4 linked regions of the Homo sapiens genome follow. The protein of the gene in region 1 interacts with the protein of each later gene in a pairwise test. Each region holds a gene or a part of one and is shown on either strand. Other genes may lie near its edges.

Region 1 (3,655 bases):
TAATCCCAGCACTTTTTTTCGGGGCGGGGGGGTGGTTTGAGGGGGGTTGTGGTGGTGATGGCTTGAGGCCAGGAGTTTGAGACCAGCGTGGCCAACATGGCAAAACCCCATCTCTACAAAAAATACGAAAATTAGCCAGGCGTGGTGGTGCAGGCCTATAATCCCAGCTACTCAGAAGGCTGAGCGGCAGGGCGATAACTTGAGGCCAGGAGTTTGAGACCAGTGTGGCCAGCATGGCAAAACCATGTTTCTACAAGAAATACAAAAATTAGCCAGGTGTGGTGACCTATGCCTGTAATCCCAGCTACGTAGGAGGCTGAGGTATGAGAATCGCTTGAACCTAGCAGTTGCAGTGAGCCAAGATCGTACCACTGCACTCCAGCCTGGGCACAAAGCAAGTCTCAAAAAAAAAAAAAAAATCTGTATTGACAATGTCCCCAAAATCATATTAGAGCAGACATTTAGTGTCCACAGCCTAAACTTTTTAAAGTATATGATAAGATTATAATTAGGACAATTTGGGACACGACTAATATTTGAAAATACAGAACAGTACTTTTCTCTCTTCACAGTGTACCAAACAGAAATATTTTTTGTTTAAAATGTTTGCAAAAAGTAACATGCTATAATAATGAGTGGTAATAAATACATAATAAGAAGTCATAAAAATGTTCTGAAAATTTAAGAAGTAGGACCTTGCCTTTAGATCAGTAGTAGTCTTAAATGTCAACAAAACCTTTTATGACTATTTTTGTAAAAGATTTTGTAAAAATTCTACTTCCCAGATTACCAATCCTTTTACTACAGCTCAAAATTACAGGGCTGCATTGTAATATCTGTAACTATGGTTTCCATTTTATTTTGGAATGGAAACTTCTGCAACTCTAACATTACACCAATGTCATCTTGCTTTACATCACCTTATTAGAATGTTAATGCACTTCAGAATGAAAGTGTGCCATATATTTTCATTTCAAAAACACCCACAAACTAAAATAGATATTTAAAATCTTTATTGTTTCATCATCAAAAGTTTTCTTTCCATAGAAGAATGGTAATATTGTATCAGTGCATATTCTATGGAAAATTCATATCTCAAGTAACTAGCCTAGAAATCAGAGACAGCACTATGTCAAGCTAGTATACAAGGTCAAAGACACAATGCTGCCAATGCAGTTAGTATATAGAAATAATACGCAGCTGTTAGAAAAAGTCTGTGGCCAAGTGGATAAAACAGTAGCAGTGCACTGCACTGACATCCAGAACAGAAAATAGGGAAGGACCAGAGAATGCACTTCCTGCAAAAAAAAGTCCAGTAGATCACAAGCACAAAGAGTTCCCAACTGTCTCACCAGCTCTCTAACTCATGTGTACCTGCACCTTCCTCTTGAAATCTGAACATTATAATACCACAAGCCACTTTCAGCCTCCAGTGGGAAGGCTCCAGCCACACGCCGATATTTCGTCCTGCTTCCCGTCATCTCATATCTAAAAGTCATGGCTTAAGTTAGGCAATAAAACCTGTGGCTTTAGGCATCTTTAGTAAAAAAGCTGAACAAATCCCAAATTTATTCCCATTTTCTTGAGAAATAAACTTCATAAAACAACAGACAGCTGTCATGATTACTGAGTTTTGGCTGATGGCGAAATAATTTTTATGTAAGTATACTGAATAAACATACAAACAAATATCCTTAACAAAATACTGTCAGACCAACTTGAATGTTTTTATAACCCACTCCTGAAAAAAGTCCTGATAATTATTAGATGTAAACGACCACTATAAATTGATCATGCCTGGTTACTGGGAATTTTTTGGTCAGGTATGTTTCTGAAGCTGCTATATAGCTGGACTTGGCTACTTTGCATTAACTCACACAACAAATGCCTTTTATAAGGAAACAGCAGATCTATCATGATGAACTCAAAATCAAAACAGTTCAGAGGTATACAGGAAACTTGTCTTAAAAATACTTTTAAATTACATATGATATAACCTTAGAGAATAAGAACTACTATTACCATGGTCTAAATCTTAAACTGTTAATGCATGAATTATCTGTAAGACTAACAAGTTACTTGTTAATCATGGCAAGGCCTTGCAGGGGAGGGGGCACTCTGAATGTACGGCATAGCAATTATTTTCCAGGTAAGTAAACACTTCTAAGTGTTATTAAACTATATTTGAAAAGTTATTTTATGTAATATATACAACATACCAAATAAGTCAAAAGGAGGAAGCAGAGGAAGGTTTTCTGGCATATATGATGCAAACATACAACTGTCCCTCATCAGTAGTGGTTCCATGTATGTCCATTTTAACAGGGTAAAACATGAAAGGTTGATAGGAGATCACAAATTTCACTTATAAATAGAAACAGGATTCAAAAACTGGAATTTCAATGTCATTTCTTCCCACATTGCAACTCACTCTAACAATAATAAACATAAATAAAAACCTTATCTCAAAAATGTTTTTACACCCTTACCTTAAAGTTTAACATAAATTCTTCTAACAATTGAGAAGAAAAGCACTCCTCTGTAGCAATTCCATAAAATAATTTTCAATCCACAAAACATCTGTCTACCAGTAAAACCAACAACCCTTAACGGAGGGCATGGGCATTAACACTTGGCCCCTCTGAGGTATAAATGCAGCTATATTTGCACTGAGTATACAGTCTATAACGTATGCCAACCGTCTGTATGTCTGCATAACATTGGGAGTGATGTCATCCTGACTGACTGAAAACTTATTTTTATAATTTTTTGTAATAATGGAGGCTAAATAATTTTAAGAGAAAAGATGTACTTGACCAGTAATAGAGCCGGCGGAATTCTGAATTCCTAACCAATGCAAATGATTACATTAAAAAAGTGTTTAACATTGCATATTGATTCCAAAAAAAATCAACCTAACAGGAAAAACACATAAATATTTAAATTCAGCAGGACACCACAAAAAGCATACTATAGATAAGTGTGAAATCAGTCAAGCTTTTCCAAAAGAGAAAATCCTTTTAATCCTTCAGCAAGTCTCTGTGAAAATAGTATGCTTACAATAAAAGTGAGAAGGGAGCACCTAAAATACCCCCAAGAGGCTTGCTATACCATTCAGCATTAACTGCCCCATCTCCTGTGTGCGTGAATGGCCAACAAATGACAGGAAGTCCATTTGACAATAGTTCAGTAATTTCTTTTCACCACTGCTGCCAGCTGAAGTCGTCATTGCTTCCAAAGACCAAGAAAAAGCCTAGTATAGTTGCAAAGATGACTGTGTTTCCTGTGAGAACAAGTGCACAAGCTCCCCACTCAATCTATGGAAATAAGATACACTCAGTCAACAGGCATGAAAAACGAAAGGAAAATAAAAAAAAAAATCAAGGCTCTAGTTGTATCCCAATTATGATCTAAAAGAAGCATGCCTTGTAACAATAATTGTCACAGTGCTGAACACATACTTATAAATATATATAGTATAAATATATATAGTAAAAAAATATATAGTATAAATATATATAAATATATACAGTATAAATATATTTATAGTATAAAAGTGGTACTTTTATACTAGTATTTTCATTTACCTTTGGTTCCTTTAAAAAGAAAGTCATGAAATGACCATTCAAAAACAAGCTTGACTTCTGGGCTATGA
Region 2 (7,226 bases), on another chromosome or scaffold:
TGGTTAAAATGGCAGGCTCTGAAATCACACTACTTTGGTTTTATCCTAGCTCTTACACTAACAGATATGTAACACTGAGGAAATTAAACTCTCTAAAATGCAATCACCTAATCTATAAAATGGATCTAATAATGATATCATATGATTGTGGTGAGAAGTAAATAAAGTAGTATATATAAATAATGTATTACAGTGTTTGGCATATAAGTGCTAAAAACATCCCAGGATACTGGGACTAAACTGAGCTCCTCTAAACCCCTAAATGAACAATCCCCCCACCTCTAACCCCTACCCCAAAGGGGCTCACACATTAGGCCTGGGTTCAAGAAGTCTTCCACCTCAGCTAGGAAATCCCAAGGATCTAAGAAAAACACTGATCAACAAAACTTTGGGGTATAAACTTAGACTGACTCCTTCTGAGCAGTCTTAATCTCATCATCTTTGTCTCGTTTCCTATAATACCTCATCTCCTACAATGCCAAATCCAAGATCTTTTTTTTTTAAATCTCTATAATTGCATCCCAATATTCCTCATTCTTCTAGTTTACTAAGATCATGGCAATTCATAGCATGAATTCTGTCACACTTTATCTACCCCATCCCATTGCATCCTCTGGTCTTAAGATGTCTGCATCTCTTTTCATACTCTTCTTCCATGTCATGTCATCTTTCTTCTCTCCTAATTGCTACAGTCTGAATATTTGTGTCTCTACCAAATTCATAAGCATATGATATCTGTATTGTCTCCATTTTATAGATTAGCTGATTGAGTTTTAGAAAGTTTAATTTCCTCAGTATCATATAGCTGTTAGTAAGAGCTAGGATAAAACCAAAGTAGCGTGATTTCAGAGCCTGCCATTTTAACCAGTACTCTATCCAGCACTGTTCAACAGAACTATAATGTACATACATCATTTAAAATTTTCTAGTACTCACATTAAAAAAGCTAAAAAAAAAATAAAAAAGTGAAGTTAATCTTAATTACGTATTTGGATAATCTAATATATTCAAAATATCAAATATCATTTTGTCCTATAATCAATGTAAGATAACTGTAAAGATTAAATTAATTAAATTGTATAATTAAACCTACTACATCTTTGTCCTGAACTGTAAAACTTTTTTTTTCCTGCTGTACAACTTTTGAATGTAGGAAATTATGTATTATGTATCTCTGGATGCCAGGCAGAACAATCAAATGCTTCACCCATGGCAAGCCCTTCACTTCATGAATATTAATGAAGGACCACTAAATATAATTTATCAGCATCTTTCTTATGCTAACGCAAACATTAGAAAAAGTATCCTCCTTCCCTTTATATACATAATTTCAATTGGCTTCCACACCATCCTCCAGCTCACCTGTATCTCACACTTTTTTTCTGGACTTTAGGGCCTTACTTCCATCTACCTTCTAAATATCATCATTTAGATGACCTGAAGGCAACCTAAACATAACATGTCCCAAACTGATCAGAGAATCTTTCTCTTTCTTTTTTTTGAGACAGAGTTTCAGGTTTCGCTCTTGTTGCCCAGGCTGAAATGCAATGGCACAATCTCCGCTCACTGCAGCCTCCACCTCCCGGGTTCAAGCGATTCTCCTGCCTCAGCCTCCCGAGTAGCTGGGATTACAGGTGCCCGCCACCACACCTGGCTAATTTTTTGTATTTTTAGTAGAGCCAAGGTTTCACCATGTTGGCCAGGCTGGTCTCAAACTCCTGACCTCAGGTGATCCGCCCGCCTCGGCCTCCCAAAGTGCTGGGATTACAGGCGTGAGCCACCACGACTGGCCTCTAATCAACTTTCTTCCTATATTTCTTGTTTGATAATAAAAGTAATAGCCAACATGAGAATTTTATATATATTATCCTATTTAATCCTCACAACAACTCTACGTATTCTATCATCCTTTATCACCAAATAGGATTTAAAGGCATGGTAACTTGCTCAAGATCACAAAACTATTAAGTGGCAGATGCACACCTTGGCATGTTTGACTCCAAAGGCCATGCTCTCAAACACCTTCCATCCAAGCACATAAAGCAAAATTAGAAACCTTGAAGTCATCCTAGAAATTCTACTCGCTCTCTACATCCTGCCACCCAGTCATCTCTCTCCTACTATCTAAATGTTTCCCAAACTAGTCCTCTCCTCTTTGTACTGCCTCCATTCGGCCTTTCTCTCCTGAACTACTGCAATAACCACCTAATTGATATTTTGACTCGAATCTCAACCACCTATAGGGTTCTTTCTGTATTTAAATTTCATCATGTTGCTGCCCCACTTAAAATTTTTATAAAGGTTTCCAATTGCCAACCAGGTTAAGTACAAACTTCTTAACAACTGGATTTTTGCCTCCTCTCCCAGTCATCCCATCGTTGCCCAAATGTGCTCTAGGGCGATCATACTGCACAGCTCGTCTTTTTTTATTTTTTATTTTTTGTGACAGGGTCTCACTTTGTTGCCCAGGCCAGAGTGCAGCGATTTTGGCTCACTGCAACCTCTGCCTCCCAGGTTCAAGCAATTCTCCTGTCCCAGCCCTGCAAGTAGCTGGGATTACAGGAGCGCACTACCACGCCCGGCTAATTTTCGTATTTTTAGTAGAGACAGGGTTTCACCATGTTGGCCAGGCTGGTCTCGAACTCCTGACCTCAGGTGATCCGCCCGCCTTGGCCTCCCAAAGTGCTGGGATTACAGGTGTGAGCCACCGTGCCCAGCCAACTTGTCTCTCTTAACATGGTGACACTCACTCCTTCCTCAGCTCACATGGTTCTCTCTCAGCTGACTTCTAATCATCCTTCCAGATTTAGTTCAGTATCAACTCTTCAAGCCTTTCTTCCCTGCTGCAGCCTCCTTTCCTTCACCTGCCAACAGATTAGGTATTCCTTCCCCTGCAGTCCCCCTTTACCTCATTTCTAATTAACCTCATCACAAGTTACTCTATTAATATGTGTTTCTGTCTGTTGCTCCTGACTCAGAGTTCTTTGAGGACAGGGGTTTTATATCAATCACACATCGCTAGCATAGCCCCTGGAATATAGCACTCTATACCATATGTGTACCAAATGGAAGGGTTTATATCGGGCTTACAAATCACAGCAAAGAATGTCTGGGAATATCAGGATAGTCAGTCTTCCATATTTGCTGGGAGGGAAAAGGAACACTTCTGAAGAAGTGCTGATGACCCGGAAAGTCAGTTAAGGACAACAGGTGTGCCTAAAAAAGAAGTAAAGATCAGAGAACTCACAGACTTCCATTAGAGAGAACACAAAGAAATCATTTATTTAAAGATCAGACTAAATCCAAAACAATTAGGTTCACAAAGCCAACAGAAATGCAAGATACAGACATACACAGCCAACATTCTCTTAAGTCAATTTCAAAATGTTGAAAGCTATTTCGGCAATAAAAATCACAAACTTTCTGCACTGCCAAGGTGAGGGAAATTACATTTCAAAGGCGATTCCAAAAAAACCTAATCAAGACTTTCCTCAGGATCAATTTTTGGTATTCACATTTCCTTAGCATGTAATACAGGTGCCTGTCTTCGGCGTACGGATAAACCCAGAAGGCCAAGAGCAAAAATCGTGATTAACTTTAAAGAGTTTAACTTGCACCCCTTGTATGATGCCACAGGATACAATACTATAAACCGCCACTCACACAAGATGAGTTACAGTTGCCATGGGTTAAATCTGCTGCCTGGAAAACAAATTTTAAGTCCTCCACCCAGAAGGGTCTGGGGAATGGGACGCAACAAAGACCAAGCCAGAACACCCCGGAGCCCAGACCTGCTCAGAAAACGCGTTCCACGTGTGCGCGCCCGCAAGCCCGGCTTCGCTTCCCGCCCCGCGGGGAGCGCCCTTAGCTGCCCTATAGCGTTCGCGCCCGGACCAGGACGAGTAGAGGGGACGGGGCCCTCGAGCCATCGAGGATATAATAAATACCCGTTAGTCACACCACACTACCTTCCTGCTAGCGCGAGGCAGGCAATTACCATCCACTAGCCGCAAGCAGCCAGCGTCTCACCCGATGCGCAGGCCCAACCCCGCACCCGCACCCGCACCCAGCACGCACGCGCGCGGCAGAGCGGGTGCAGAGAGCGCGGCACTGAGTCCCGCCTCGCCCGGGGGCAACGTGAGATTGGCGCTGCTCGCAGCCAATCCGCTGGCAGCGAGTCTGTCCGGGAAAGCTTCCGCAAGCTGCGCAGCGCCGGGCCTGAGGGCGTGTATCCGCGGCCGTAGCAGCCGGGCTGGTCCTGCTGCGAGCCGGCGGCCCGGAGTGGGGCGGCGGGTAAGTGGGCACGAACGCGGTGGACGCTGTACAGTCGCCTTCGTCGGTAGGGAACTGCTGGCGGCCTAGGGGTCGTCCTGAGAGGGAAAAGCGGGCTCCGGCTGCATCTGCGGCGCCCTGCGTGGCCGTAAGAGCCAAGTGGCCTCAGAGGCTCGCCCCCTACGCAAATCCTCGTTGTCTTGCCAGGGTCCTGACGTGACGTGCGGCCGCGAGAAGGAAGGGGCGGGTTGGGGGAGGCGCTGAGGTGGTAGCAGCGGCGGCTTTTGCTGAGTTTTCTCTGGCCCAGAGCGCTCGGGCTGTCGGTCTAGCAGGGGGGACTCCCCTGAGGGGCCGCTGCGGGTCGCCGTCTTCGGAGGCACCGGCGAGGGCAGAGCCAACAGCCTCTTCACGGTCTGTAAGGTCATTGTTTGCCAGTCGTGGGCAGCGCGGCAAACCTGCTGGGAAAAGGTTTTCTGGTTGGAATAGGATGAGTACCGCACCAGCTTTGCCTTCCAGCTGAGATGTAAATTTCAGGCCTCCATCCTGTGGAACGTGGGAAAACTATCTTGAGTGTTGGCATGTTCTAAGTATGACATAATAGTTTAATGTATGATAAATCATGGGTGTTTAGACGAAAGATTTACACATATAAATTGGAGGCTTTAGCGGTCTTAGTGTAACTAACTTTTCGTCCCCTTAACCCTTGATGCCTGTTCTATGGGTCTCTAGAGCGGAAGGAGCATTATACTCCGGAAACATTTGCTGGAAGGGGTTATGAGAAATTCCTCTCTGTATGCTAACTCCGTAATACAAGCGTTTGTGTATTTTAAAATCACAGCTGTTCCAAATATAATCTAGCCTCGTTTTCCCCCTCCGTCGGATGATAGGTGTTCTTCAGGACAGTTTTATTTTAAGCAATTCTTAGTCTCAAGTAAACACCATCATTAAAAGAACTGAGAACTATTATCAATTCTTCCTTTGGAGTCCATCTTCAATGGAAAGGAGAAGGGAAAACCTTTTTTAAAAAGAAGAAAGAAAACTGAAGTTTTTGATTTGACTAGAGAAATATTCAGAAGACTCCTTATTTTCACCTAGTTTAATCACAAAATTGAGAAACAAACATTATCCCTTGACCATGTAAATTTTACACCACATTATGTCAACAGCATGTACCTTCCACATTGAGTATTCAGAAAGAAGTGATCTGAACTCTGACCATTCTTTATGGATACATTAAGTCAAATATAAGAGTCTGACTACTTGACACACTGGCTCGGTGAGTTCTGCTTTTTCTTTTTAATATAAATTTATTATGTTGGTAAATTTAGCTTTTGGCTTTTCACTTTGCTCTCATGATATAAGAAAATGTAGGTTTTCTCTTTCAGTTTGAATTTTCCTATTCAGTAAAACAACATGCTAGAAAACAAACTTTTGGAAAGGCATTGTAACTATTTTTTCAAATAGAACCATAATAACAAGTCTTGTCTTACCCTAAAGTCAAATGCTGAAGATTCTTTACTGCTGTCATCAGCATCTACAAGTAGCATATTTTGGATGGTGTTTGTGTGCTACTTCAAAGTAACTAGGAAAAAATAATCCTCGCAACACAGGTACCTTGTCATGTCAGAATTGGGGGTGTTAGGTTGCCAGTTGTATCAGTGTTGATTCATTTCATTACTTCCTACAGAGCAAACATGAACGTTGGAGTTGCCCACAGTGAAGTGAATCCAAATACCCGTGTCATGAACAGCCGGGGTATGTGGCTGACATATGCATTGGGAGTTGGCTTGCTTCATATTGTCTTACTCAGCATTCCCTTCTTCAGTGTTCCTGTTGCTTGGACTTTAACAAATATTATACATAATCTGGTAAGAATTTCACATTATACTAAACACTTAAAAGTTTTAAGTTTAGTGGTTGCCGGAAATTAAGGGGAGGAAGGAATGGAAAGTTATTGCTTAATGGGTACAGAGTTTTTGGTTTTGCAAGATGAAGAGAGTTCTGGATGTGGATGGTAATGGTGATGATTGCACAACAATATGAATGTTTTTAATACCACTCAACTGTACATTTAAAGTCCCAGCACTTTGGGAGGCCAAGGCAGGCAGATCACAAGGTCAGGAGTTCAAGACCAGCCTGGCCAACATGGTGAAACCTCATCTCTACTAAAAATACAAAAATTAGCCGGGCATGGTGGCGCATGCCTGTAGTCCCAGCTACTCGGGAGGCTGAGGCAGGAGAATCGCTTGAACCTGGGAGGCAGAGGTTGCAATGAGCCGAGATCATTCCACTGTACTCCAGCCTAGGTGACAGAGTGAGATTTCGTCTCAAAAAAAAAAAAAAAGTGTCTAAGATGGTAAACTTTATGACATGTGTGTTTAAACATAGTTTTTAAAGAAGCTTAAGGTTTTGTGTTGTATACAACTTAGTTTTTTTAACAGCTTTTTTGAGATATAATTCACATGCAATAAAATCCACCCATTTAAAGTGTATAGTTTAGTAGTTTTTAGTATATAAGACTTAATTTTGAAGAATTCTAATCTGGGATAGAATTTTCTTTTTTCTTTCACGCTTTATTTCAACATTGGTCCTTTTTCTAAGTAAGACTTTTTTTTTTCTCATTGTATAGAATCTAGAAAATAGATCATTTTAGTTTCAATCCTTGTTAACTTATCTATCTAAATAGTGTAAGTATACTTCACTGTTTCAGTATTTAAGTTTTGAACTTAATCATCTTATGTGATTCAGGATCTTATGGTGCCTTAGCTGCTGCTTGTTACTCTCTTGTGTTAGCTCTACAGAGTATCAAAGTTTTGATTGACTGTACTGACCATATTATGCAGCCCTGGAAATTGCCTTTTACAAAAACAAAAAATCTTGACAGCGACTTTTCTTGTCTTTAATAACCCATTAAAGTAACGTGAAAAGGAGGAAATACAGTTAGTTGAGGATTT
Region 3 (7,034 bases), on another chromosome or scaffold:
AATCACCTGAACCCGGGAAGTTGAGGCTGCAGTGAGCCGTTGCACACTGCACTCCAACCTGGGCGATGGGAGTGAGACCACTGTCTAAAAAAAAAAGATTGTAAAGAGGTTGTTGGGCTATATAATATAAAAGGCACTGATAACACTGGATTTTCATATAATTTGAAACATATTCTTAAATTCTCACTTATTTTCTCATAAAAATTCTTACAAATATCTTTCTTGGTATAATAGTTTTTTTCCTTTTAACAATAGTCTCACTGATTGGTGGTGTATATATGTATTTTTTTAAGCTACTTGTTATCCATTCAATAATCAGGACCACCTAATAAACTTTTGATGTTTTGTGATTATTAGATGCTAAATTTTGGGGGCTATTTCTTATATCACTATTCTGCCTCATTGATCTATATGTTTCTCTTTTGCACTAATACTATATGACTTAGTGTTGCTCTAGGAATGTATTAATATCTGGAAGGCCTAGTATCTACTCGTTGTTCTCTTTTCTAGAATTTTTTTTTTTTTTGAGACGGAGTCTCACTCTTGTCACTCAGGTTGGAGTGCAGTGGCACGATCTCAGGTCACTGCAGCCTCTGCCTCTCGGGTTCAAGTGATCCTCCCACTTAAGTTTCCCAAGTAGCTGGGATTACAAGTGTGCGCCACCACGCCCAGCTAGTTTTTGTATTTTTAGTAGAGATGGGGTTTCACCATGTTGGCCAGGCTGATCTCGAACTCCTGACCTCAAGTGATCCACCCACCTCAGCCTCCCAAAGTGTTGGGATTACAGGTTTGAGCCACCACGCCGGCCTCTTTTCTAGAATATTTTCTATTTTGCCCTTACAGTTTTTCAATGCTAAATTTGCTGATTCTTGAAAACCTAGAATTTTGATTATGAATGCATAAAACTTAGCTTGGGATAGCATTTATTATATTTAATCTTCACATATAGGTTTATGATATGTTCCTCTACTTAAGTTTTTTATACCAACCTTTATGGCCACTTGGAAAAAGGATAAGTAGAATGGGAAATCAGAAGCCAGACTGCATGCAGCTGGGTAAGGAGTTAACAGAAGACCAAGAAATGGAAACAATTGAGAACATTTTATTCCTTTGAGGCATTTGGAGAAGAGAAAAATGAAAGATAGGGTATATGAAACTGAAAGAAGAAATTTTCAGGAAAGGAAGAATTTATGACTATAAACAGAAATAAGCCAATGGGGAATGACACTGAAGATGAGAGAGGATACTTGATGGAAAGAGAAAAAGATCAGAAGGTGCTAGGGATAGGAACAAAAGCATGCGTGGTAGGAGGAAAGATGCAGGAAGATAACAGGGAAAAGGTGAAGGAACTGGCTAATTGAGCCAAATACCCTAGATTAGCGTGCTCAATTATATTTTAGAACTAACTTTGATGTACTGTGCAACATCTCTACTACTTTAAATAGTGGGTGGCTATCACAGTGCAAGAGGACACATCTGTTCTATTTCAACAGTTAAGTATTAGTCTCCTAACTCACCTCTTTTCCCTTATACCCATCTAGTGGCACTTAAACTTGTTTACTTAATTGGCAAAGGCTTCATACTGCAGTAATTTTGCTTCTAAGGAGGCATTTTTCTGTGTTGGTTTCCTTTCCCGGCCAGAGGCTGCCATAGAGTGGGATGTGGGACTGAATTTGGAAGCAGGGTTGGAGGGGTGTGTGTTGATTAATAACCATGGATGGATTTCATCCCGTAAATTGCACAATCCCCACCTCCAATCTATCAGGCCGTTTTTGTGAACCTCTGAAAAACGGTTTATGATTATACACTTGCTTAAACCTAACTGTTCCATCTGCTATCGGATAAGACAAGCTTCATTTTTTTCTTACATTTGGCTGTACTTACCACAGGTGCTTTAGGGCTGGAGGTGAAAGGATGCAAGTAACAATCTTATTGTGCCTACAAGATTTATAATGTGGGATGCAACAAAATTCTGTTATGTTCTTGCACGGAAATACCCTCAATGGGGAAGCACTGCTGATACTTAAATGACGATTGAAGGATTGTACGCCTGTATGCTGAGCTACAACGATGACATACGATCCCAGTTTTACATTTACGTCTTCATCAATTTGAGCAGTCGTTATGTTTCCTACTATTCTCTCCACAAGAAAGGGGGAGGTGCGTACTCCAAAAATGTGCTCAACTAAAATGTTTCCCATTTAAGGTGGTTATTTCTGGCACTAGGAAGACAGTTAAATATTTGTTAATGATTCCTTACTCATTTTTAAAACCTTCGGAGTTACCCCTGTATGGACATATATAGAGCCCCACCCACATAGCCCACGGCTGGGTATCAGCCCCCATTTCCCTTCTCTCGCCACTGCCAGTAGTCTACCAAGTGAACCTGCCTCATCCCAAAGATAATTTTGCTTCATGAGCCCACATATTTATTCTTCTTCATAATGAGTCGCTTTTGAAAAGCCCGTGCAGCAACAGCCTTGGCCAAAGGAACAGCGTTCTGCTTACAACTTAGCTCATCTGGGGGCCTATTTGCCCCTGGAACTTCAGGACGCTCCTAAACTATACTTGCCCTTCTGCAAACACCGACAGTCGGCTCGCGGCGCCCCACCGGGACGCTCCCCTTTCATGGGCTGTAAGCCCAGCACATGCTGGAGTTTAACACGGTTCCTGCTGGATGCGCACAGAAGCCCTGGAGCCAAGCAGGCGTGTGCGCGTTTGGGGCTGGCTGTGTGATGGGTTGAGGGTCGGCCGCACAGCCCACGGAAGCATCAGGAGACCAGCGCCGGCGTACGGTGCGGGCTAGGGCAGAGCCCCAGACTCACCTGGCAGCGCTGCCGGCCGGAAAGCGGAGAGGGACGCGAAGATCAGCAAATTCGCCAGTTTGGATCCTTGTCCTTTTCCGCCCTTTTCCCCCCATTAAATCCAGAACCCGTCACATGATAATTAAGAAAAAACTTCAGTTCCGCCTCCTCAAACGACTGCGGTAGAGGATCTCTCAGTTCTACCTCAGTGCCGCGCCCACATCCGGGGCTGGTTCTCACCGCCCCTGAGCCTACCCTATAGGTAGAGAGGACGCCAATCTGGATTCAGAGGTCCCTTTTCCGCGGTAATTGGACCATTTGTCCGCCAGTGCAAACCAACCGACCTTTCCTTACTTTCGGGTTCGACAGAAAGGCGGCAATAAAAAGACCCATTGGTCCCGCCTCTCTACTGTCACGGGTTAGTAGGGAAGTCAGTCCAAGATCAGCCTGGAGTTTCCGTGCTCCCATTGGGCCCACAGATGTTAATCAGAGCAGCCGGCGCTCAGCTCCGCCCTCTCGGGACGCCCCGCCCCTCCTCCCATCCTCCCTGCCCGCGCGCAGTGACTGCAGGCTCCGGCGCAAAATCCTGCGGGAGAGGGGGTGGGGCAACCCTCTGGAGGCAGCGCGCCCGCGGGCAGCCTCGTTGTGGCTCCTTGGGCTCTGTTGGCGGCGGCGCTAGCTTCGGAGTCTCCCGCGCGCACCTCAGCCGCCTCCTAGCGGCGCGGCGCTCGCTCCTACGGTAAGAGCGGCATCACCTCCGCGCTCGGGTGGGCAGTGTGGAGGTCGTCGAGTTCTGACAGAATTTCGAGGATGGATCGGGACGAGGGAGGAGAGCGGTCGTCGGGATGGAGGTGGGGGCTCCGGGGCCAACGCGTCGCCCTCCGTCGCCGGCGACTTTCCCGGCAGTCTCCCGTACCTGAGGGCCGGGGTCAGCCGCGACCCCTTCTCATCAGTCGGCCGGTGGCGGAGGCTCAGCCGCCTTCCTCCCGAGCTCGCGCGGTCCTCAAGTCTTGATGGTGACGGGCCGAAGCCCAGCGCGCCACCCGCCCCTCGGGCCCCGCTTCCAGGCCCCTGTCCTTTGCTTCCTTCCCTTGGCGCTGTGCTGAGGGGTCGTCGGGTCCTGGAAGGGCGTTCAGGGGTCTCGGGTGGCTAGCCCGGCTGGCGGGGAGATGTCAGCTAGCGGCCGGAGGAGCGGGCTCGGGAGGGGGCGGCGGCTCGCGCGCTGGAGGAGGTGGAAGGAGGGTCGCTGCCCTGCCCCCTCTGAGCAGGCGGCAGTCGAGTTTTCTGATCCCAACACGGCGGAGTGGGTGCTTAAGGCATGGGCCTTAAGGGATAGTTCCCGTCTGGAAACAATACCGTGCTCCATCAGCATGCTTCAGCTTTTCTTATTTTTATCTGCCCAGTGTTGACAGCCAGCATTCTGGTATTGTCCTTCGAGTCATGGCTTTCTAACTCAGCACCTCCTTGTGTAACTTCAGGGATCATTCTGTCACTAATCTGTCACCCTTCTTATTTTTAGCGTGGCGAAAACAAGGAACTGCCTTATACTAACCTGGGCAGTGCAGAATCTGGAACAATTTATTAATCTCAGTGTGTACTTTACATGCCAAGTAATTTTGAAATTCATGGTGAATATTAAATATTTTGTAGTTTTCGGTTGCTTTCTTTGTTAATAGTATATCCTCCTTGCTTTGAGACTACTTTTCAGGTGTGATACTTTAATCTTAAGGTTTTTGGTTAGCTTTTGCCATTTTTAAACGTTTCTTTCATTTTTTTTTTCTCCAAGACTTTGGCAAGAGACTTAGTATTTGATCTTGTTTTCAGGTATTTTTGTAAAGTTTATTTTCTTTCAAACTGGGCTTTTTTCACCATATTTTTAATATTGGAAGGGGAATTCTGAAAGTCTGGAAACTGCACACTTTAGCCTAAAGAGTCACAAAACAGTATAACAATTTGAAATCCTAACTTGGATATGGTGTATGGACTGCAAATTTTAAGAGAAGGAAATGGATATGCGTTATCAGTTGTAGTGGCTCCACCTCCATAACGTAGAGGAGAGGAATCTGGAGGTCTGCGGAGAATGAGCCATGTCTGGGGCCAGAAACAGTGGTTCCAGGAAATATTTTTGCCCCAGAAATAGCCTGCCTCCCACACAGACTGGCTGTCTGAATGCATCTGATAGTTTTAAGTTAGGTGTTAGTGAGGTGGAGAGTTTTCGTGTTCCAATTTTGACCACTTTCTGGTGGAGCATGAAAATGTGGTGAGTAAACAAGTATAGTATACAATGGGGGCACTCTTGCATAGATAGTCAAGCCTCCAAGAGTAAACTTTTTTTGAGCCCAAACTGGCACTGGACAGTTGGCCCTAAAAATGAAGAAGGTGGCCCACCCAATTTTTAAACCATGAACTTTTTTTGGCTGGTCCATTTAATGCAAAATTGCAAGGAATATGTAATGAAAAAAACCTTCACTAAACTGAAGAGAATTTAGGGTGTCATGTGGATAAAATGAAACTCGAAAATAGTTGGACTACTTGTATATTATTTAATCATTTTAGTCCTGTGAGATGGGTACTGATTACTGTCATTTTATAGATGAGCAAACCAAGACTTAGTTTAACTAATTTGTTCAAGATTTCTTCACAAATGAGTCAGTAGAGGTGAGATTCACACCTAAGCAGTCTGATTCCAAAGCCTACATTCCAAGCCATTATACTTTATTACCACAATAAAATTGGCTTCTTGGAGACTTTATAGTAGGAGACTACTCAGTGGAAAATAACACTGCAAAACCGTAAATTGAATCCACTATTGTACACAGTAACACTTTGAGATCATTGTATAATAGGCACTGTTGGATTTTGCTGAAGATAAAGGGATGGAGTCACCTTCTCTGTGTTTGAGGAGCATTCATTTGATGGGAGAAATAGATATTTGAACAAATGACGATAATACAATATATACAGATTGAGCATCTGTAAACTGAAAATCTGAAATGCTCTAAAATCTGGAACCTTTTGAGTGCCAAGATGATGCCACAAGACACTTGACTTCATGTGACAGGTTACAGTCAAGCTGGGTGCGGTGGCTCACGCCCGTAATCCCAGCACTTTGGGAGGCCAAGGCGGGTGGATCACCTGAGGTCAGGAGTTCAAGACCAGCCTGACCAATATGAAACCCCGTCTCTACTAAAAATACAAAAAAAATTAGCCGGGCGTGGTGGTATGCACCTGTAGTCCCAGCTACTCGGGAGGCTGATACAGGAGAATCGCTTGAACCCAGGAGGTGGAGGTTGCAGTGAGCCGAGATCGCACCACTGCACTTGGCCTGGGTGACAGAGCAAGACACCGTCTCAAAAACAAAAACAAAACAAAACAAAAAAACAGTCAAAACTTAGCTTCATGCACAGAATTATTTTAAAATGTTATATAAAATTACCTTTGGGCTATTTGTATAAGGTGTAAATGAAACATAAATGAATTTTGTGTTTAGACTTGAGTCCCATCTCTAAGATATCTCTTTATGTATATGCAAATATTACAAAATCCAAAATCCAAAATGCTTGTGGTCCCAATAATTCTTGAGACAAGAATTCAGTTAAAGTATAGACAGTCTGGATTTGAATTCCTATCAGGCTTTGTGACTTTGAACATAACACCAAACCTCTTTTAGCATCAGTTTCCTTATCTGTTTAATGGAAAGGGCAATACTTCAAAGAAGACATTAAGCCTTAAATAAAATATATAAAGTACGGGCACATAGAAAGCAGTGAATACAAAAGAAACAATAAATAATTTTAAGAGAGAACTAGTTGGGTTTCAGGGGAGCTACCACTGAAGCCTTAAAGGTCTGAAGGTGGTGTTTGTAGGTGGAGAAAGAGGGCATTCCATGCAGAACAGGAAGAGGCAGAGTCTCAGAACAGAAATATGGATTGTTTAGGGAATGGTAAGTAATTGTAGCTTTGTATAAAATGTATGTGTGAAGGCCAGCTTTAAATGATAATGGTATGTAAATGTGGTTGGGCAAAGTGAGTACTACCCAATTTTGATAATTGGAAATTGCATACTTAGATACTAAAATTATAGGAAAACCTCAGCAGTTTGTCCATTATTACATGTTTATTTAATATTCACCTTCCAATACTTACTTTCCCAGTTCAAATTAAGACTCAAAGAAGAATTCCAAAATGATGGTTGCCATCCCTTAACCCCTTTACCTAGCCTGTAGCCACA
Region 4 (7,038 bases), on another chromosome or scaffold:
ATGGAGGACCATACTAAGGCCTTTTTCAGGTCAAAAAGGGTTTTCACATTGACCTTTTTTACTTTTAAGTATTTTTCCTCAGAATGTTCCTTCAGTTAAAAATCAGGTTTAATCTGGAGCTCTTACTGATTTTTCTTTGATTCCTACTGAACACCTAGCTACTGGCCATGGTTTCTTTGAGGAAAAAAACACCATTGCTGAAGCATTTCTAAACATTTTTAATGCATGCAGAAAGAACTACATAGACTCTCCAAGCAGCTATATAAGGTGGCTCAAGTAACATTATGATTTATTTTGGTCTAAGCCCTTTCATAACGTCCTTTTAAAATACAAAGAGAATGGCTACGAAATGGTGCCAGAACCCAGAAGGCCCAGCTGGACTGACAGGAGCTCTGAGCAGTTCATAGGACAAGCAGGGACCCGCCGAACCTCTCCCGTTTCTGTGCTTTCTCTAAATGCAGCAGGTCCTCTCTTTACTGCCCATGCTTTTAAACTATGAAAAAAAATTTTTTAAAGAAATCTAGCAGTGATTAATGGAGACCTCAAATAACACTGTACATGGGCTTTGTTAGAGACAGGTAATCATTCTTAACAGCTCTTTTCCCAGAGGAGGCCTGGGTGGGCCGAGAGGCATCCAGAGTTTAGGAAGTGCTTTTATTGCAGACTGCACCTTGGCTAATACTATCCTCTATGTACTGGCTGCCTGTGTCACTCCTGCTGAGGACTGTGGAGGGGATGCGAGAGGGACGCCTCTCTGGGTTCTCCTGAGAGAAGCAGCAGATCATCTTCTTCATGGTGCCATACATGTCCTCGTCCTTGTAGGAGTAGATGATGGGGTTCACGACGGAGTTGAGCAGCGCCAGCAGCAGGAACCACCTTTTCACATGCTGCACGCCACACTGCCTGCAGTTCAGGCCGTCGAGGAGCAGAACCACCAGGCCCGGGGTCCAGCATACCACAAACGCCCCTGCAAGGAGAGAAGAGGAGGCAACAGATGCTCAGACCTTAGGGGACTTATTCAGGTTTTCTTCTCTCCCAGCCTTTAGCCAGTGGCATCAAGGGGCCCTCATGATTTGTTTTGACAACTGCAAGGCAAACTTCCACCTACCATCTGAGCATTTGAGACCTACGCTTGGTACAGGCAAATAGGTGGGAACCTCCTTGACTATCAATCACATTTCATTTCACTTTCTTTTCTGCTTACCCAGGTCTTGTGATTATGAGAGACTCACATTTACATTCTGCTTAGGAGGCAGTGCACATGCATGATCTCCGTTAGTTCTCTGAACCACACTGGGAGGCTTTGTTGCACTCATTATCCACATTGGACAGATAAGAAAACCAAGGCCCAATTCTAGGGGGAGATGAGAGGAGAACTCTCTGACTCCAGGGCTCCCATACTTCACCCTACATTCTGCTGTTACAGAAATCAGATTTTCTAAATGTGCTCTTGAAAATAAGACACAATGAGTCTACGGCATTCTTCTAGTAGTTTAACCAAATCACCTGCTCATAAATTTCATTCTTCATAAATTCATGTGGATGCTTAGTAAGCACTATATTCTTTTTGACATATTCACGGGCCATCTGCATAATCATCTGCTCTACATTTAGATTTTTTGGTCAGAAATAAATCTTTCATGATGAGATAGTTAAAAATCTACTTTTCAGACTCTGCAATTGAATATGAACCGTAGTCTCTTCTGAGTCTCTAGCCACAGCATCATACTTACCTTATCTCTAAATTTCATGATATTTTTCTCCCATTAAGACATGGGTCCACTATTTCCCTACTATTATCATAACCTCAGATAGCAATAACGACTCATCTTTATACAGCACTTACTATAAGCGAGGCACTGGTGCAAACGCTTTCCTTGATTAACTCACAGGACCACACTATGACATTGGCATTATTATTATCCCCAGGAAACCGAGGCACAAGAGAAGTTAAGTAACTTGCCTATGATCAAATAACTCTTAAGAGACACGATTTTGAACAGAGGCCGTCTTTCTCCACAGGCTGTGCCCTGGGCCACTATATGACCCGCCTCTGTAGTATGATGTGGTTGCTTTCGGCGAATGTCCTTGTCATTTCTAAATGCACTTGCTTGTCCACTCATAAATATTCATCTGAAGCTAACAATGTGCCAGGAGCTGTACTAGACAGTGAGTGAGGTGAAGGCCACGCACTCAGGGAGCTAAAATACTAACAGAGAAGACGACAAACAAGCAAGTCTATAGATGATATCACCAACTACTCTACTTGTTAGAATTAGTTCTGCATAGTATTTCTCTTGTTGCTTTATCTTACTTCTAAGAGATATAATACCAAGCAGGGAAAGACAAGGATTATAAAGAGGCAGTGTAAGGCAGGGAAGAGCCACGAACTTTGGGGTCAGACATGTATGCACAGCTCAACCTATGAGTGACCCGAATTATGGGAATTACTTCACTTTTCTCAGCCTCCATTCCCTCCTTTATACAATAAAGTTAATAAACCCAACTATGTGAGGTGGTAGTTGTGAGGATCAGAGGTCATGGAAAGTGGTACCCAACACTGTGGTGGGTTCACTGAGCAGCAGTTATCATGAGGTGCTCTGTTTCCACAAAAAATATCTATATGTTTAGTAGCTAGCAGGGGGGTTGAATTCCTTATTTCATAATTACGGTTCAGCAGTGGTTCCCTTTTTTCTCCACCTTGTATTATTATTTTCGGTCTGGCTGATATATGTGAATAAAGAACTGGACTTGGAGATAAGAGATCAGAGATTTGGGTTCTAATTCTTCACTTACTGTACAACTCTGGGAGACCCATGTCATTGCGCTGGGCTCAGCTTCCTCAGCTGTAAACTGAGGACTGACTTTAGGCTAGGTCTGAGTTTTTCTAGTGGTGGGTCAGAACTTGTTAGTGGGTGTGCAATCAATGTGACAGATTCAGACTGGTTTTTTGTTTTATTCAGACTGGTTTGAAACAAGTGAAGGAACTGGATGGGCAGCCAAGTTTGCAACTACCAACTTGAGAATTCATATTAGTAAGTTTTTAGCCATACCACCCGATAATTGTGTCTGAGAAACAAACAAGTCAAATTTGTTTGAGTTTTATGGAGAGTTAAAAGCCACAGTTTCACAGAATTCGGCAGTTTCCTACTTGGAAAAGAGTTCAGAAGCCGCTTAGCCTGATCTTTCATTCATAGGAAAAAGGCCTTCCCTTTGTACATCTCAGAACAATCCAGGCAAAGGAAATGCCCTGGTCAAGGGAGGCTCTTCAACTGCTGAACAATGGTTTCTTCTCTTAAATAACTTCATTTAGGCTGGGCGTGGTGGCTCACATCTATAATTCCAGCACTTTGGGAGGCTGAGGTGGGTGGATCACCCAGGTCAGGAGTTCGAGACCAGCCTGGCCAACATGGTGAAACCCTGTCTCTACTAAAATGCAAAAAATTAGCTGGGCATGGTGGCAGGCACCTGTAGTCCCAGCTGCTTGGAAGACTGAGGCAGGAGGATTGTTTGAACCCAGGAGGCGAAGTTGCAGTGAACCGAGATTGTGCCACTGCACTCCAGCCTGGGCAATAGAGCAAGACTCCATCTCCAAAAAAGTAAAAAGCAAAAAAATATATAAATATCTTCATTTACTTGAAAAGAAGGCTTGCATCCAAACTCTGCCTGTTGTACTCTTCCATTTGTTTTGTGTGATCCTCTGCAATAGCCCAGGAAAAGTCTGTGCTTTCTCTATGTGATGCCCTTCAGGTTTTTGAAGACAGTTAACGCTTTCTGTCTTTCTTTAGCCTTTTCTCCAGGAGACACATATTGAATTTTATCTACTAGTTCCCAGATGCGTACCTCTGGACACTCATTCATATTTGTTAATGCTGAGAATTTTTTTTTTAAAGTAATCTGGGCATCACACAAACTCTTCTTTGAACCCTGCTGGTTCCCAGCAGTCATAGTCTGAGCATTGAGGCTAAATACTCAAAAGACATTCCTTTTAGTTTTTTTCTTCTGGATTTATGTAGATTGGTAGGCAACTAAGTGATAAATATTTTCCAGGATCTATCACACACACACACACACACACACACACACACCCCTCACTTTTAAGAATTAGTCCAGTTACCTGTTTGAATGTTCCTGACATCTCCACATTCTCTATGAATTCTCCAAGACTACAGAGCCTAGGGTGTGGAGGTGCGTGGGGAGGACTTATGTTTAACTGCTAACATAGAGCAAACCCCCTCAAAGTATGAACTGTTAGATAAACTGTGCATCTCTTCTGAGATGTGTTTGGAGAGAGATCTTGGCCTCCAGGTGGAGGAGGCTTGGAACAGCTGTTTCCCAGGGTCACTGCCGGGGAGCATCTGCTTAAGGCAACATCTCTGAAGTACCTGTTCTCTAGTTTAGCCACCTAGTATGTTTGTGCTGTTCTGTCGAAGAACATTTGCCTTTTGTTGTTCATTGGAAACAGCATAAAGATGAGATCAGCAGATTTTTATTTCTCTTCTGACACCACGGCCAGCCAATCAGCCAATATTTTTGTTGGATTCCTTTGGATTCCTTCCCTCCTTCCATCTCTCCCTCCCTTTCTTCCTTTCCTGGCCAAAAAAAAAAAAAAATCTTTCCTTTAACAACCAAAGAATGATGTAATTGTGATATATGTAGCTTTATGGTCAGACATGACATACTACGGAGGGGCCCTTGAAGTCCAGAGGTACCCTCCTACTCCTCCTTCACTCTCTTCAGTAGTAAGATGCTTTACGGGCCACAGCTGAGCAGCCTAGCACAAAGTCAGGAACATGGCTCTGGTGCCAGGCTGCCTGGGTTCCAATCCTGGCTCTTCCACTGATCGGCTGTGTGCCTTTGACCACATCACCTAACTTCTCTGTGCTGTAGTTACCTCAGGCTTAAAATGAGGGCAGGATTAGTACCATTCCCAAGGGTTTTTATAAAAATTAAATGGATTAATTCATATACAATGATTAAAACAGCATCTGACACAAGATCATTGCTCAATAAAAAGCTTATAAGGTTTTAATTGAATGAATTATTTTATGTAATTCAACGAAAAGGGAAACTATATAGGAATTATCGTATTATGACAAAAAGCATCAATGTGAAGACTTGTTTGGAGTGTTGGGTCACAAGATTAATTCAAAACAGAGTTTTGTGCTGGGGAGAAAACTTTCATGACAAAAAAATCACGTCATTAAAGAACAAAAAATCACATTAAAAATTCACATCTAATAATATGAGAGTGGGGCTTTAGGAAAACATTGGCAATTTATTTTTATCCTTTTTTGAGTGTGTGTGCGATGCACGCATGCCAGGGGGGTGTATTATATTATTCAAACAAAACTACAAAAAATATAGTGAACTTTAAAAAATAATGCTTAAAAGAATAAAAAAAATAAGAATACCTGTCTACTTACCACCCAACTTAAAGAACTTAAAGAAACTTCAAAGAACACTATCGTATCTTTAGAGCTTCCTGGGTGCCCACCCCAGGAGCCCTCTCTCCTGTTGAGATAAACGTATCATACATTTTGGGCTAATCATCTTCTTGCTTTTTCTCATGGTTTTCCAATATACGGATGTAATGTTAGACATCATATTGTTTAGATTGATCTGTTTTTTAACTGTACCGTGATTTGCACTGATTTTAGTTATCAATATATTGGAATTCACTTCTAGCATCTTATTTTGTTCTTTGTTTCATTTTTTTCTATGTTTCGCTTTTTTCCCCCTCTCTTTTTTCGTATTGAGATCTTTTATTTTTTCATTTCCTTTGGTTTCATTTTCCCCCTTCCACTGGTTTGGAAGTTGTAGACTCTATTAAATCTCGACTTACATGTTTAACAAAGTATAAAGTTGGCCAGTGTTTGTCCTTCCTTCCCGTCAGCATAAGGACCTTGGAACACTCCCACCTGGATTTTTTGGAATTATACAATTTCATATAGAAAGGACTCTTCACATCAAAGTTGGTAGCTATAGCTTTTGATGTCTGGCTTGTTTAGTTTTTCTCTCTTGACAACACAGTAACCCTCTCTTGAGAATAGCAGAGAGAATAAAAATGTTACTGTTATGGGAAATACAGATCACTGGAGCTGGGTGGGGCCTTAAAGATTACCAGTGTTTTTCAAACTTTTGACCAAGCCAAATGAAAATTAAAGGAACTTTTAAAATAATGCATATTCTCTGGTCCCACATCAGACCCAATAGTCAGAATCTCGGGTGGGACACAGAAATCTGCAGGACTAAAAAGTTCCCTGGGTGATCATGATGCACAGCCAGTTTTGTAACCTATTTCTCCATGCTGACCCAAAATGGTTTAATCAAGCTGACTCCATAAGCAAAATTATAGATGCCATATAGACTTAGCAAAAAGCCATGGAAAAGAGAGAGGGAGCACAGTTTTTTCAAATGAGAAAATAAGCATCTCTAGAGATGAATATCTTCAATTTGCATTTGGGAAAATGTTTGAGCACATACGCAAAAATAAATATACAAAGAGTGGCAGCAAAAGTAGTCTACAGGCAAGGCATCCACAGTCCTCCTCTGCTGCTCTTTGGCTCGCCGTGCCAGGAATGCCTTCTCACCTCCTAATCTGAGGTCTGCTTTTCTTTCTAAGCTTAGTGCATACTCTGCCTTCTCCACTGGAGCTCTCCCATCTCTTCCACCACAGTGTCCATTTCCTCCTCTCAACTCCTGTAGCACTTTCTACCTATAGCATTCACGTGGCACTGGGCACATTACCTGCTTAATTCCTCTCTAGCATTTCCTGAGAACTCTGGGTCAGGCAGTGTGCTCAGGGCTTTACATGCACTTCCCCTGTAAAACTCACAGCCTTACAAAGTTGCTACTTTTATTATTATCCTAGACTAACATACAATAAATTTGAAGTTTAGAGTAGCTCAACAGTTTGTCCTAGGTGCACAAGCCAAAAAATAGAAGTTATCATTTGAACTCAGGCCTGACTTCCCCATGCAAACTCTTGAGCATTGAGCTATACTAGAGGTAGTTTTTAATACATACGTCTTGTGT

The links.
Region 2: the proteins of LEPROTL1 (region 1) and ORMDL1 interact in binary tests that used the Homo sapiens proteins (3 or more experiments, as listed by UniProt).
Region 3: the proteins of LEPROTL1 (region 1) and TMEM60 interact in binary tests that used the Homo sapiens proteins (3 or more experiments, as listed by UniProt).
Region 4: the proteins of LEPROTL1 (region 1) and LPAR3 interact in binary tests that used the Homo sapiens proteins (3 or more experiments, as listed by UniProt).

The regions. Positions count from the first base shown.
Region 1 is NC_000008.11:30,105,408-30,109,062, reverse strand, and holds the end of LEPROTL1 (leptin receptor overlapping transcript-like 1), read right to left. Parts: intron 3,318-3,655; coding exon 3,201-3,317; 3' UTR 539-3,200; downstream 1-538. UniProt on the Homo sapiens protein: Negatively regulates growth hormone (GH) receptor cell surface expression in liver. May play a role in liver resistance to GH during periods of reduced nutrient availability.
Region 2 is NC_000002.12:189,781,336-189,788,561, reverse strand, and holds the start of ORMDL1 (ORM1-like protein 1), read left to right. Parts: upstream 1-4,222; 5' UTR 4,223-4,293; exon of another isoform or gene 4,294-5,438; 5' UTR 5,439-5,548; exon of another isoform or gene 5,549-5,959; 5' UTR 5,960-5,966; coding exon 5,967-6,140; intron 6,141-7,226. UniProt on the Homo sapiens protein: Plays an essential role in the homeostatic regulation of sphingolipid de novo biosynthesis by modulating the activity of the serine palmitoyltransferase (SPT) in response to ceramide levels.
Region 3 is NC_000007.14:77,795,429-77,802,462, forward strand, and holds the start of TMEM60 (transmembrane protein 60), read right to left. Parts: upstream 3,007-7,034; 5' UTR 2,826-3,006; intron 1-2,825.
Region 4 is NC_000001.11:84,813,205-84,820,242, forward strand, and holds part of LPAR3 (lysophosphatidic acid receptor 3), read right to left. Parts: intron 968-7,038; coding exon 642-967; 3' UTR 1-641. UniProt on the Homo sapiens protein: Receptor for lysophosphatidic acid (LPA), a mediator of diverse cellular activities. May play a role in the development of ovarian cancer. Seems to be coupled to the G(i)/G(o) and G(q) families of heteromeric G proteins.